Homo sapiens: one gene and its partners. The protein of the gene in region 4 purifies or fractionates together with the protein of the main gene of each other region. This does not show direct contact. Each region holds a gene or a part of one and is shown on either strand. Other genes may lie near its edges.

Region 1 (3,672 bases), on a different chromosome or scaffold from region 4:
TTATGGGAACACGTTGTGCATGTAGTCCATCGTTGCTCAAAATGTCTTTCTGTGGCGTGTAACTGTATTAATAAATGCGTGCTCCAGATTTAGAAAACAAAGGAGCCTTAACATCCAGAAATATGAGAGGCTGAGCAAGATCCCAAAGGATAAACTTAAAGCAGTTTCATATTGGAGAGAGGCAAGGGAAAAAAAGACATGCTCAACAAATTGGGAAGACCTGAAGAGGCGATGACCTCAGGTCAGGTCATAGCTTCAGGTCTGGCAGTGAGGACCAAGCTTTACCAAAGTTATACTTCTGAAAGGAAACTTTCTTGGAATTTGAAAAAGGAAATAAATTACAATTATAAGAAAATTAATTTCAACCAACCCTTGCTACATTTTAAAGAAAAGTACACCAAGAAGGATTTCATACCTAAATGTCAAGGCATTCTGTTCCGCATGTATGATGTATCTGAATTTCCTTATTTCTCTGTCTTTCTGCTTGTCATCCATGTGTGGGAAGTCAGCATACTCAGATCCAACAGGAAAAGCATTGTAACCACATCCTACAAAGTACATGGCACCTGTTCCATCACAACTTCTCTACGAGAGTGAGCAAACCAATGGTTAGTTTCAACATTCTGAAAAGACACTTTGCAATGTATTTTTGAAGCTTGCTATCATACTTTGTATAATGAATATTCATTCAATTTTCTACAGTAAACTGAGCTATCAAAAAATATAATACCAGATACTCCTACTGCAGTGTGATCTTGTCAAAGCTAAATTCCAAGAAGGCCAACCACCTCTCTAATCTATAATCTCAAGGAAGTCCTTGTTTTTTGCAATTAATTAAATACTATCTTACTTAACTAACAAATTATTTCACTTGATTCAGATATTACTTCCCAAATAAATTATAGATCCTGGAGAGCAGAAACCATGTTATATATTTCTTTTCCATCCCTTCAACATGTTCGAGTATTCTGTACATAGCAGGTACTCAACAAGTGATTGTTAATTTCTTATGTGCTCTGTGCCATGCTACTGGTTAGCAAGTCAAAAACTTTTAAATACTTTAAACAGAAAATTTCTGTTGGGCTAAAAATGTGCTATTGTGATTTAGTTGGAAAATAAAAAATGCATTTTCATCTTCAGTATTTATTAAGCCTCTATTATATGCATATTATTATAGAACTTCTTACTTCAATGGCTCTTATTTCTCTTTTAAAGAGAAATAGTAGTTAATATGAATGCTTTATCAATTATTAGAATGAAATATTAGTAATGTGTGTGTAATAGTTTTTTGGAATATGCTATAAAACTCATTAAATTTCAATATATTATAATTACTCATGATAATATCAACAGACTCATTACTGTAGCAGCTTCATAAAAATCATGTAATAGTGAGCCAACAAAAGCCTGCAAACAAAATATTATCTCATTAATAAATCTGTTTGAACATTTACTAAATGTCAAACATCATGCTGAGTTATTTATTTATTTATTTATTTAGAGACAGGGTCTCACTCTGTCACCCAGGTTTGACTTCCTGGGCTCAAGTCATCCTCCCATCTCAGCCTCCCAAGTAGCTGGGACCACAGGCGTATGTCACTATGCCTGGCTAATTTTTTCTTTTTTTGTAGCAACGGGGTCTCACCATGATGCCCAGGATTGTCTTGGACTCCTGGGCTCAAGGAATCCTCCCACCCCCGCCTCCCAAAGTGCTGGATTACAGGCATGAGCCACTGCACCCAGCCATACTGAGTTTTACATGGATCATTTCATTTGATCAATTCTTGAAACAACCTAAAGAGTGATACTATTAATATTACTGTTTTACAGATAAGGAAACTGAGGACAAGAGTGATTAATTGTCTAGGGTCACAAAATGAGTAAGTAACATAGCCAGAATTCAAGCCCAGATTACTTGACTCTAAGCCATGTGTCTTTCCATTTCACCGTGCTGCCTGCTGGCCTACTCTAGAGATAACTAGAAACTGACATTCTCCACAAAATCATTAACAACCAGATGTTAAGCCAAAAGTCTGCTGAGCATTCATGTACACACAAATGAGAGTTCCAACCACCAGTTAGACCTATGCTAGGTGCTGGAATACAACTGTAAACAAGACAGAGAGTCCCTACCCTCATGAGCCTTCTAGTCTGGGGAGGGTAAGAAATTGAACAGATAACTTTAACTGTGATGAATGTCACAGACAAGTTGTACAGAGTGCTGAGGAATTTCTGGCAGAGGAGCCTAGTATTCTAGTAGGAGTTAACAGTTGGGGTACAGGTAAGTAGAGTCAAGAGGTATTTTGAAGGTGGAATCCATTGTGCTAGGTGATTGTATGTGTACAGTAACAGACAAGATGGTGACCACTGATGAGGGAGGAGGTTAGCAGGGAAGATACTGGATGAGTGAACTTGAGGAGTTTGTGAAACATCAAAGCAAATTGTCAGATTACTTTCTGTGAAGTCCCTGAGGCAAAATGTAGGCTCACCTTTCAGTCAGCTATATAGTTACTAAATATCTCTTGATTCTAGCCTCCTAACCCATCCCCACATCTCCAAGTCCTCATCTCTTTTTATTAATCTCCTTATTTTCTGTCTAGCCCTACCTCATTCTATTTATAATGCAAATCTGATCAAATCATTTCCCCACTTAGAACATTCTTGGAATGCACTGTCCCATACAGTCGCCACTAGCCACATGTGGTTAGTCTAGATTGAGAGGTGCTGCAGGTGTAAAATACACATAGAATTTTGAAGATTTAATATTTTTTAAATGCAGAATATTTCATCAATAATTTTTTATTGATTACATGATTAAATATTTTCTTAAAATTAATTTATCTGTCTTCCTTTTAAAAACATGGCTCCAGCTGGTTGCAGTGGTTCACACCTGTAATCCCAGCACTTTGGGAGGCCAAGGCAGGTGGATCACGAAGTCAAGAGATTGAGACCATTCTGGACAACATGGTGAAACCCCATCTCTACTAAAAACACAAAAATTAGCTGGGTGTGGTGGCACACACCTGTAGTCCCAGCTACTGGGGAGGCTGAGACAGGAGAATTGCTTGAACCCAGGAGGCAGAGGTTGCAGTGAGCTCAGACTGCACCACTGCACTCCAGCCTGGCAACAGAGTGAGACTCTCTCTCTCTCTCTCTCTCTCTCTCTCTCTCTCTCTCTCTCTCTCTCTCTCTCTCTCTCTCTCTCTCTATATATATATATATATATATATATATATATATATATAACACCTAGAAAATTTAAAATTCAGTTTGAGCCTTGCCTTTTCTCTCTACTGGTTAGTGCTGTGCTATAGTATGTCACTGCCAGGATAAAGTCCAAAATCTTTACATGGAATATAGAGTTCTTCATGGTCCCGTCCACTTTGTTGCTTACTCTATGTGCCAAATCAAATGCGTTTTCCCATATTCTCTCTCTCACCCCAGTCTCTGTGTGTTATTCTCCTGGTCCCATTAACTTGCTCTGCCTGATGATATCCTCCTAATCTTCAAGAATTTTAACATTATTAATATTAATATTAAGAATATTCAGGGCAGGCATGGTGGCTCACACCTGTGATCCCAGCACTTTGGGAGGCAGAAGAGGGTGGACTGCTTGAGGCCAGGAGTTCAAGACCAGCCTGGTCAACATGGCAAAATCCCATCTCTACTAAA
Region 2 (3,672 bases), on a different chromosome or scaffold from region 4:
AAATCAGTTTTTTTCCTAGTTGCAAAATCTAACAAATTTCATATAGCAATAAAATTTTTTTTATTTTTTTCTTCCTTTTTCACATCACCCGCAATGCCAGACAAGTAGTCCAATTTAGAAATAGGTTACAGTTAGTGATCCTACTCATGCTTCTTATATTAGAATAGGAATCGCTGAAGCTTCCCACAAACTGAAGCCATGTCTTACTCATCTTTGTATCTCTAATGCCCACTATGTGGCATATATATATATGTGCTCAAAAACGTTAAATACATAAACTCTCAAAAATTATTTACTGAGCTTTACCATAAAAGTTTATGATACAAATATTAGCCTATCAGTAATGATGTGAAGTTAGCATTTGAAAAAATAATGTCTGGCAGACTAAATAAGCTACACTGCATTTCCTTTTAGGAATGGTCAGTACTGGAAAGATTTTAGACCTAGCAGTATTGATCTCCAATTATATGCACCTTAACTTTTCTTCAGCAACTCACTTCTATGGCCATATCAGATAGCTTTTCTTTTCTTTTTTTTCTTTTTTTTTATTTTTTTTGAGATGGAGTTTCGCTCTTGTTGCCCAGGCTGGAGTGCAATGGCCCGATCTCAGCTCACTGCAACTTCCACCTCCCGGGCTCAAGCAATTCTCCTGTCTCAGCCTCCCGAGTAGCTGGGATTACAGGCATGGGCCACCACACCCAGCTAATTTTGCATTTTTAGTAGAGACAGGGTTTCACCGTGTTGGTCAGACTGGTCTCGAACTCCCGACCTCAGGTGATCCACCCGCCTCAGCCTCCCAAAGTGGTAGGATTATAGGCATAAGCCACGGCGCCCAGCCTCAGATAGCTTTTCCTAAACCAGATCTACTTCACTTCTAAAATCTTAAACTTCAATGTGACAGTTTCAGACAAAATCTCCAACCCTTCCAATTATCTCATTCCTTTACTCCATTACTTTTCCACCTAGATAGCATTCCCAATCCTTTGACGGTTCTTTCCTTTTCTCTCCAGGCTATCAGCTACCGCCCTCTCCTCCCCTTCCTTATATATCCTCAATCTAGTGGCCAATCCCATCAACACAAAGTGAGGCACTCTAATCCCTCTCATCACTTTGCCATTCAGGCACCAAATCCTGCATGTGTTTAACCCTTCTGAATGTCCATAATGAATATTCTTTTTTTCTTTTTTGAGACCAGGTTATGAGACTGGCTAATTTTTGTATTTGGGGTAGAGACAGAGTTTTCATCATGTTTCCCAGACTGATCTCAAACTGCTGGGCTCAAGTGATCTGCCTGACTTGGCCTCCCAAAGTGCTTGGATTACAGGCATGAGCCACCACACCTGGCCCCATTTTCTACTTAAGTTACTCAGAGTCCATTTGTAGACTCCGTATTTCCACCCCAGATATTGCTCCTAAACCCTAGACTTCAAAAATAAGACTGCTTTAATGAGCATATCCCTCTTACCTTTATTAGTAGTCACTCCTCACCCCCAGGATAAAGTTCAATTTCCTTAATGTAGCAAATGAGGCCCTTGGAAATCTAATTTAGTGCACTGCCTATTACAGATGACTAATGGAGCAACAAGCCTAACTCAAAATAGCCCTCTCCATTACCATATTTTTGCTGTACAACCCTTTGCCATTGCTAATTGAACCATGGGTAGACAAAACTGGGTCACAAAGGCTTTCTCTCTAGGGGATTCTGAAACCTGACAGGAGAGATCAAAGACTGGGAATTATGGAAGATAGGCCAGCACTCTAAAGCTGTAGCTCCCAACCAGGAGTAATTTTGCCTCCTATGAGACATTTGGCAATGTCTGGAGACATTAAACATCCTACAATGCACAGAACAGCCTTCACAACAAAGAACTATCTATTTCAAAATGCCAATGATGCCAAGGTTAAAAAACCCTGCTGCTACTTTAAGAGGAAGGTCCAAGAACTCTTCCAATGAGATTCTAGGAGCTAGCTGGTTCCTGTTCTTTCCTTGATTTGGTTGTTCAGATATTCTTCTGCTTTCTGTTACATTTCCCTTTTTACTTAAATAGATCAGCTTTCTGATGTTTGCAGGCAAAACAACTTTACTAGCACAGAACCCTAGCTCAATCATACGACACACACCTGTACACTTTAAGCTGGTTTCTCAATCTCGGAACTACTGACATTTGGGCAAATAATTATTTGTTGTGAGGGAATATGCTGTGCAATGTAGAACGTCTAGCAGCATCCCTGGCCTCTATTCACTAGATGGCAGTAGTATTACCCTCCCCTCCAAGTCTTGACAATTAAAAATATCTCCAGACACTGCCAAATGTCACCTCAAGACAAACTGACCCTGGTTGACAACTGCTGCTTTAAACTATACGATGACTCCACCGAGGTGAGGTGAATGTCTGCCCAGTCAACTCCCACTCCCAGGAAACCTTGTGCAGAGCACAGTATGCCCTTAGCCTAAGGGAGCGAAGGAGAAGAGAGTGTCTGTATCCAAAACTTCCCTACCCCTTTTCAGGTCCTGGCTTAATTAAATATACGTCCACTTTGCCGATTTGCAAGCGCCTGTTCACAGGTGTGTACATGTGTATACACATACACATACACACACACACACACACACTAATGTCTTGAGCTGAAAGGTAGCTTCTGCTTTTATTTCCTTTCTCACATTTGTTACGACTTCTCTTTAGAAGTTTCCATTCCCATGTGAAAAACTACTCTCCTAGAAAACCCTCCCAAAATACATTCAGTCCTATTACAGTTTGAAAAATCGGGGCAGTTTCTCCTTCAAAAGCTTTTCCTGTTTCACTCTGGAAAAATGTCACTACTCTAAGCTCCCCCATCCCACCAACACACCTCCTTGTCCTCATTTCAGATTCTTCAAGTAGATAAACTTTTTATTAACAACTGGAGAGATGTTTGGAATACAAACTAACAATTAGGCAAGGAACAAGTATATAGATTTACAGTTCTCAAATAGTTTAGCATTGAGTTAAAGAATCTGTTAATCTCTTAAGAACAATTCCTCTTCCATACTTTCCCAACATACCAGCTTCTCAAGTCCCTTCATCCAGGCAAAGATGGTTTTAATCTTGCAACTGCACTATATTTCAACCTCAAGGCTAAAAATGAGAGCTCTTTCTCATGTTGGTTCACAGTCTTCCTCCTTACTGGCAGAACTCCTCCCCCCATACAATAACTGGGTTATTTCCTTACCGGAAGACCCCTCATATAAACCCCTGTAAGAACTAGGTCATTTTCCTAGTTATTTTCCAGGATCCAAAGGCACCACATTTATTTAATGATTCAATTACTCACTGCCTCCTAAAGCCACAGGGAAACTGGTCATTCCCAAATCTATAAGAATATTGGCAGTAGTCTTGCCTCAGTAAAAAAAAGCAATGTAAGAGAAAGTAAGCTCATTCATGTTATGTATCCACATTCATGCAACAAATAGTTGTTGAGTACCTACTTTATGCCAGCCTCAAGACAAAAATCCCTGCTCTCATAGAGTCTACATTTAAGTGGAGAAAGACAAAAATACATAAAGAAATAAATATGTACGACAGACAAGCATGAGTGCTATGGAGAAAAATAATGCAAGCAAGAGGACTGGCAATATGGGGGCTCACAATTTTAAACTCTGTGGTCAGGAAAGGTCACCTTTGAGAAGGTGCA
Region 3 (2,643 bases), on a different chromosome or scaffold from region 4:
ATTGCTTGAACCCGGGAGGCGGAGGTTGCAGTGAGCCAAGATCACGCCATTGCACTCCAGCCCTGGCAACAAGAGCGAAACCCTGTCTCAAAAAAAAAAAAAAAAAAAATTTCATATCCAGCCAGGCACAGTGGCTCATGCCTGTAATCCCAGCATTTTGGGAGGCCAAGGCAGGAGGATCACTTGAGCCCAGGAGTTCCAAGACCAGCTTGGTCAACATAGTGAAACCCCTGGTCTCTACCAAAAAAAAATCACAAAAATTAGTCAAGCATGGTGGCAGATGCCTGTTAAGTCTCAGCTACCAGGCAGGCTGAGGTGGATCACTTGAGCCCAGGAAGTCAAGGATGCAGTGAGCCATGATCAACCCACTGTACTCCAGCCTGGGTGACAGAGTGAGACCTTGTCTCAAAAAATATAAATTTTTTTGGCCAGGTGTGGTGGCTCGTGCCTGTAATCCCAGCACTTTGGGAAGCAGAGGCAGGTGGATCATTTGAGTCCAGGAGTTGAAGACCAGCCTGGGCAAAACAGACCCGTTTCTACCAAAAAAAAAAAACAAAAATTGGCCTGGTGTGGTAGTGCACACCTGTAGTCCCAGCTGCTCCAGAGGCTAAGGTGGAAGGACAATCTGAGCCTGGGGACATTGAGGCTGCAGTGAGCCAAGATCAAGCCAGCGCACTCCAGCCTGGACGATGGCAAAACCCTGTCTTTTCAAAAAATAATTCATATCCTCTCTGGGGATGCAGCCCAATAAGCAAGACTCTTGCCTGGTGAGGACCCGTCTCAAGATTCAATTCATTCCTTCAGTCACTGTCATCCCCAGTCTCCTCCTTTTCTTCCTGAGCCATGGAGTCTTCTCCCTCTTCCCTCAGTCCTGCGAAGAAGTCATCGGTGCTCCAAGTCTTGCTGCTCAGAGCCCGCAGTGGTCCTCCCTTTTTTTTGCGCCGACGGTAGTCATCCACCACCACAGCTCGCAGCTGGGCCATGTCCCAAAACTTGAGGCGCTGGTCATGGCCACTACTGGCCAGGAAGCGGCCACAGTGGGAGAGGGCCAGCTCCTCCACAGGCTCCCCAGTGTGCTGGCCCACACTGCCCACCACTCGGTTCGGTAGGATGTTCACAGCCCTGGGCAGGGAAAGAACAGTGTTGAGTACTGGCTAGCTGGGTCTGCCCTTCCTGTGACCTAAGGGCTGTCCAGGCTTCCCTCACCTGATGACTCCATCAGTGGAGCCAGTACACAGCAGACTCTCGGTGACTGGAACCATGCAGTCGATAGATTCAGCTCTCAGGGCAAAGCGGTCACTTGTGGCCCCAAAGCCATTCCAATTGAAGAGGTAGATGGTACCTTCACTGGAGCCACAGGCTACCTTCTTCCCCCACTGCAGGGAAATAGAGAAAACAATGTGGAAGCTGCCTCAGACTAAGCCCCCAGCACACACCCCTCCATCCCACCATAACCAGCTGTACTTTCATGAGAGTGACAGAGGTCAGGTCCCCAGACTGAGGTTCTGAGAGCAGCTCAAACCGACGCCTCTTAATGTTGAAGATGCCAAGGCAGCCATCCCCGCTGTAGAGAGTAGAGCAGTAGGCTTAGACGCAAGGTCTATTTGAGGAAGACATTTCACACAGGGAGGGGAGGGGAGGCAAGGCAGCTTTGAAGTTGTACCTGGCTGTCAGCAGCAGCTTTTTGGCTGGATCCAGAGCCATGTCTGCGATGTACTCTTCATGTTGCCTCATATCCATTAAGGGGCCCTCCTTCCGCTGGTCCCAGAGACAGATACCACCTGTGTCATCCCCAGTGGCCAGAACATTCTCATCCACCAGCAGAAGACTATTGATGGGGGCACTAGAGACACAGATGTAGAACTTCTTGGAGCATCTCTGTCCCAGTGGGGACCTCCTGGTCCTTACCCTTCACCTCCATGCACATACACAGAATTGGCTGCTCTCCTTACCCATGAGCCTTGGAAACACGTCTTTCCAGTTGGCCCTGCTCCACATCTAGAACATGGATGGCTTTGTCCTTGGAGACAGTAATGAGCTCTGGGGAAAAGGTGCCCAGGTCATGGTGCTGCTCACTGCTCCCTTCCACCACATTGCTGGTTGTCTTCCCCAGTACTCACTCTGCCCATCTTCAGAGAAGGCCACAGCTCGGCAGGCCTTGAGATGGTGACCTGATGACCAGAGCTCCTTGGTTTCTCCCTCTTGGCAAGAGTAGGAAAAGCTGGGGAGAGGGCAAGGAGGGTAAATGACTCCAGACCCAGCCTGGGTTGCATTGAGTGCAGAGACCAACTAGACAGAGCAGCCTTCCCACCTACCTAAGAGTTCCTGCTTCTACACCTCTAAGCCCAAAAAGTTTACCATCTCATTTCTCCATTTTCAGTGAGTTTGAAATGTTAGGTCCTGCTTTTTTCAATATATGTTAGTTCAAGGTATATTTGCGCAAGATTTCTTTGTGATCCCACCCAACCCCTCTTTATCATCTTTGAAAGCCCCAGCCTGGACAAAGATTGGGTCTGGACCACTGTGGAGGAGATATTTGTTACATCAATGACAAAAGACCAGCCCCAGAAGTTAGAAATCTAAAAATCAGTAAGGTAGAGCAGGCTCTTGCACTTCAGGTCTGCAGGAGCTAGAGAAAGCCAC
Region 4 (3,672 bases):
TTTAATTGCATAGTAATAGAGATTTTGGTCAAAGGTTTATATGTTTAAAAAATAACTGAGATATGAGACAGTTTAACTGCTCATACTTCAGAAAGTTTTAGCTATGCTCTACACTAAGTTGTGTTGAAATTTCTTTGTGTACTGACAAGTATCCTTTTACTCACCCACAGTGTTAGACTCCCTAAAATTAGTGTGTGATGACTAAAGTGGGTTTTGTAATTAGTTAGGAAAATTTGTTTCTCCAACCAGGACCATCAACACAATTTGATCTTTTTGTGTGTGTGAATTAGCCAAAAACATACCCTTTCTTCCCTACCATCTGGGCTCTTGCCATATCAGGAGTGTTTTTTATTTATCTAGGGAAAGGGTAAATAAAAATAGAAGATTTGGAAAAGCACAATGGGGCAGAGTTCTAGAAGTGCTACTCACCAGCTCTGTGATCGTGGGGATGGCGTAATAAATGTGCCAAAACCATGGGGTCATTATGAGTATAAGTGGAGAAGAGGCATGTCAGCTGATTGGTGCAGTGCCTTGCACATAATATGCATTGAATAAATGTTAGTCATCATTCTGAATATCACCTAAAACCAGCCCTCAAAATAGGAAACGAACAGCTTCCACTAGTTTGCATCAAGGATGTTGATAAATATAGGTCAAATAGTGCTACTTGTAAATATGGCATTTCAAACTCACCAAACCAGAAGGGAAGCAGAGAGATGATCCAGTATACCTATTCTCCATCAAAGCTGAGTAACTCATCATCTCAGGGGCATGTACCAAATTGGGCTCTCCCTGGGCCAGCATACCTGAAGGTGGTGCTGCAGAAGCATGGTCAGTTGAGTAAGTGTTGTGGATGCTGTCAGCCCGAGGGTTGCCAAGGCAGAGCCCTGAAGAAGAACCATACGTTGCACCATCAGATGCATAATACGGCTGACAATTATGCTCAGAGAAATCTGAGGGATGCACTGGACTCGGAGTGCGGCTGAGGATCGGGTCCTCCTCCAGCTCAGCTCGCTGGTATTCTTCCATGCAAAAGGATGGCCTTGGAAGGTTGCTCGGGGAATTATTCTCACGCCTTGACACTGGTAAAGTGGGGCTGTAACTTTCAGGGTAGGAGAATGTCTCGTAAACCTCATTTTTCTTCATTTTCTGGAGTTTAAGCTTTTTAACAAGCCGGTAAGAATGCTTTTTATATCCATATCGCTTCTGAAATCACACAAACACAGCATAAACCAACAGTGAGTAAAAAAGTAAATAAAATTAGTAGCAAATACATTAATACTTATTTTCCATGCAACATTGCTTTACATTATTAAAAATAAATGGTCCCTTTTGATTATATAATTCTTCAATCCTACATTTTAATTGTATTTTACACATTATAATTACAAACATAAAAATAGGCAGCATCATAAATTATCAAACCTAAACTTCAGCGTTCTCCCAACAGAGTTTAGTCTCCATCTACTGTTACAAGTATAGACATGCCTTGCTAATCTCACACAGATACTGGTACTCTCTCACTTCTAGCTCATTGGCATCTTTACAAACCAGAGGTTTATCACAGTTGTAAAAATGTTTTTTATAACACTTACATGATTTGTCCACAGGGATCTCGCATGGAAACGTTGGATTTTTGAAACCTTTCTACGAATCACATCAATCTTCTTATCCAGGTTTTGCAGAGCATCATATATAACCTATTATAATACAATGTAGTCATATAATTGGTATACAATGTAAAATATAATTTTTTATTTCAAAGAAAAGTAACGTGAAAATACCATTAAGTCAAATGTTAACTGCTAGACACAACAAAAGTTCTCAAGCCATCAGAAATGTCTTGCTCCTATTCAAGGCCTGGCTGTAGGTGACACAGAGCCAACAGGCTGAGCTAGAGTAGTCCCCTCCCCTGCTCTACTCCATGTAGGAATTGAGGAAGCTCTAATGCTGGTGAATGAATGTCCCACAATGCCTCTATGCTAGCACATTGATGATGAAGACACTGCACATCAAGGAAGGTGCTATTTTAGGAAAGAAATCTGCTAAAAGAACAAAGACTCACTTTATGATATACATATGTAACATATATGTTCATATATGTACAAATATGAAGTCTATATTATATACAGACAGTGAGTGTTCCACTCCAGAAAGAACACTGAACCAAATATAACAGATGTGACTTTTGGCTTCAAAGTATTTTTAAATCACGCAGTCAGCAATTAATCTTACAAAACCGTTAAGTACACATCTCTTACGCGCCAATCGAACACATAGGAGACTGATAAAAGTCTGAGAATTCTTCTTGAAATACACAGAGACTTTGGGCAAAGAAAAATACACTTAAGCAAAGGGCCAGAAACATTGCAATCAAGCACATAGGAGGCTGATAAAAATCTGAGAATTCTTCTTGAAATACACAGAAACTTTGGGCAAAGAAAAATACACTTAAACAAAGGGCCAGAAACATTTCCTCATTCATTCATTCATTCATTCATTCACTCATTCAACTAAACCTTTATTGATGGCCTACCACCTGGCAGAACTACTTTGCTAGGTATTGAGAACATGGACCGAAAAAAAAAGCTCCTGGCCGGGTGCGGTGGCTCATGCCTGTAATCCCAGCACTTTGGGAGGCTAAGGCAGGTGAATCGCTTGAGCTCAGGAGTTGGAGACAAGCCTAGGCAACATGGCGAAACCCCCGTCTCTACCAAAAATACACAAAATCAGCCAAGCGTGGTGGTGCATGCCTGTAGTCCATGCTACTAGGAAGGCTGAGGTGGGAGAATCACCTGAGCCTGGGAAGTTGTGGCTGCAGTGAGCCATGACTGAGCCACTGCACTCCAGCCTGTCCTAGAGGAACTACCATCTCAGCTGGGAGAGAGACAAGTAAAAAGAGGATTCCAGCAGACAAAGTGATAAACAGCCTGGAACAGTGGTTTGCAAAGTGTGGTCCACGGACTGGTAGCATCAACATCACCTGTAAGCTCATCAGAAATGCCAAATGCCAGGTTGTACCCCAGACCTATGGAACCTGGAACTCTGAGAGTGGGGGCAGTGGTCTATGTTTTCACAAGCCCCCCAGGTGATTCTGATGGCCCTAGTGAGAACCACAGGGCTGCGGCACTGAGATAAACAGTGCAGGCTCTTGGGGAACATGGTTGGGGTCAAATACTACAGTCCAGCCACTTATTGGCTGTGTGACCCAGGGCAAGTTACTTAACCTCTCTGTGCTTCAGTGTCCTCATGTAGGGAATCAGGATGAAAAGCTCTCTCAGGGTTCTCTCGAGGACGAGAACCTTGCTATAGTATTAGGTTAATACTAACAGTAACAGCACTACACTACACCCGGTCCAACAGTGCTCAGTGGTCTCTTCATGTTACTATTGTTATTACCAGTGGCGTGACACAGGTGGGAACAGGAGGCTAAGCCTGCACAGAAAAGCAGTCCTAACCCAGGCTGCAGTCACGGAGACCTTTTCAGAGGAGGTGAGGTCTGAAGTGAGAATTAAAACATGAGAAGGCCCTCGCCAGGTGAGGATGCATGGAAGGGCTTACAGCATAGAAGGAACAGCAGGTTCATAAATACCCAGAGAGAAAAACAGGAAGCCAGGTGTGGAGACAGCAAGTATGAATGACATTCCAGGAGTGGGGCTGTCACAGGAAGAA

The links.
Region 1: the proteins of SCML1 (region 4) and CDADC1 purify together in Homo sapiens (affinity purification with mass spectrometry, with the first as the bait; one large-scale study listed by BioGRID). This does not show direct contact.
Region 2: the proteins of SCML1 (region 4) and BLTP3B purify together in Homo sapiens (affinity purification with mass spectrometry, with the first as the bait; one large-scale study listed by BioGRID). This does not show direct contact.
Region 3: the proteins of SCML1 (region 4) and WDR55 purify together in Homo sapiens (affinity purification with mass spectrometry, with the first as the bait; one large-scale study listed by BioGRID). This does not show direct contact.

What each region holds. Positions count from the first base shown.
Region 1 is NC_000013.11:49,275,263-49,278,934, reverse strand, and holds part of CDADC1 (cytidine and dCMP deaminase domain-containing protein 1), read right to left. Parts: intron 586-3,672; coding exon 416-585; intron 1-415. UniProt on the Homo sapiens protein: Catalyzes the deamination of cytidine and deoxycytidine into uridine and deoxyuridine, respectively. May play an important role in testicular development and spermatogenesis.
Region 2 is NC_000012.12:100,136,273-100,139,944, forward strand, and holds part of BLTP3B (bridge-like lipid transfer protein family member 3B), read right to left. Parts: intron 1-3,672. UniProt on the Homo sapiens protein: Tube-forming lipid transport protein which mediates the transfer of lipids between membranes at organelle contact sites. Required for retrograde traffic of vesicle clusters in the early endocytic pathway to the Golgi complex.
Region 3 is NC_000005.10:140,667,812-140,670,454, reverse strand, and holds part of WDR55 (WD repeat-containing protein 55), read right to left. Parts: intron 2,222-2,643; coding exon 2,121-2,221; intron 2,041-2,120; coding exon 1,953-2,040; intron 1,844-1,952; coding exon 1,664-1,843; intron 1,565-1,663; coding exon 1,465-1,564; intron 1,377-1,464; coding exon 1,207-1,376; intron 1,123-1,206; coding exon 801-1,122; 3' UTR 1-800. UniProt on the Homo sapiens protein: Nucleolar protein that acts as a modulator of rRNA synthesis. Plays a central role during organogenesis.
Region 4 is NC_000023.11:17,747,428-17,751,099, reverse strand, and holds part of SCML1 (sex comb on midleg-like protein 1), read right to left. Parts: intron 1,701-3,672; coding exon 1,596-1,700; intron 1,207-1,595; coding exon 807-1,206; intron 1-806. UniProt on the Homo sapiens protein: Putative Polycomb group (PcG) protein. PcG proteins act by forming multiprotein complexes, which are required to maintain the transcriptionally repressive state of homeotic genes throughout development.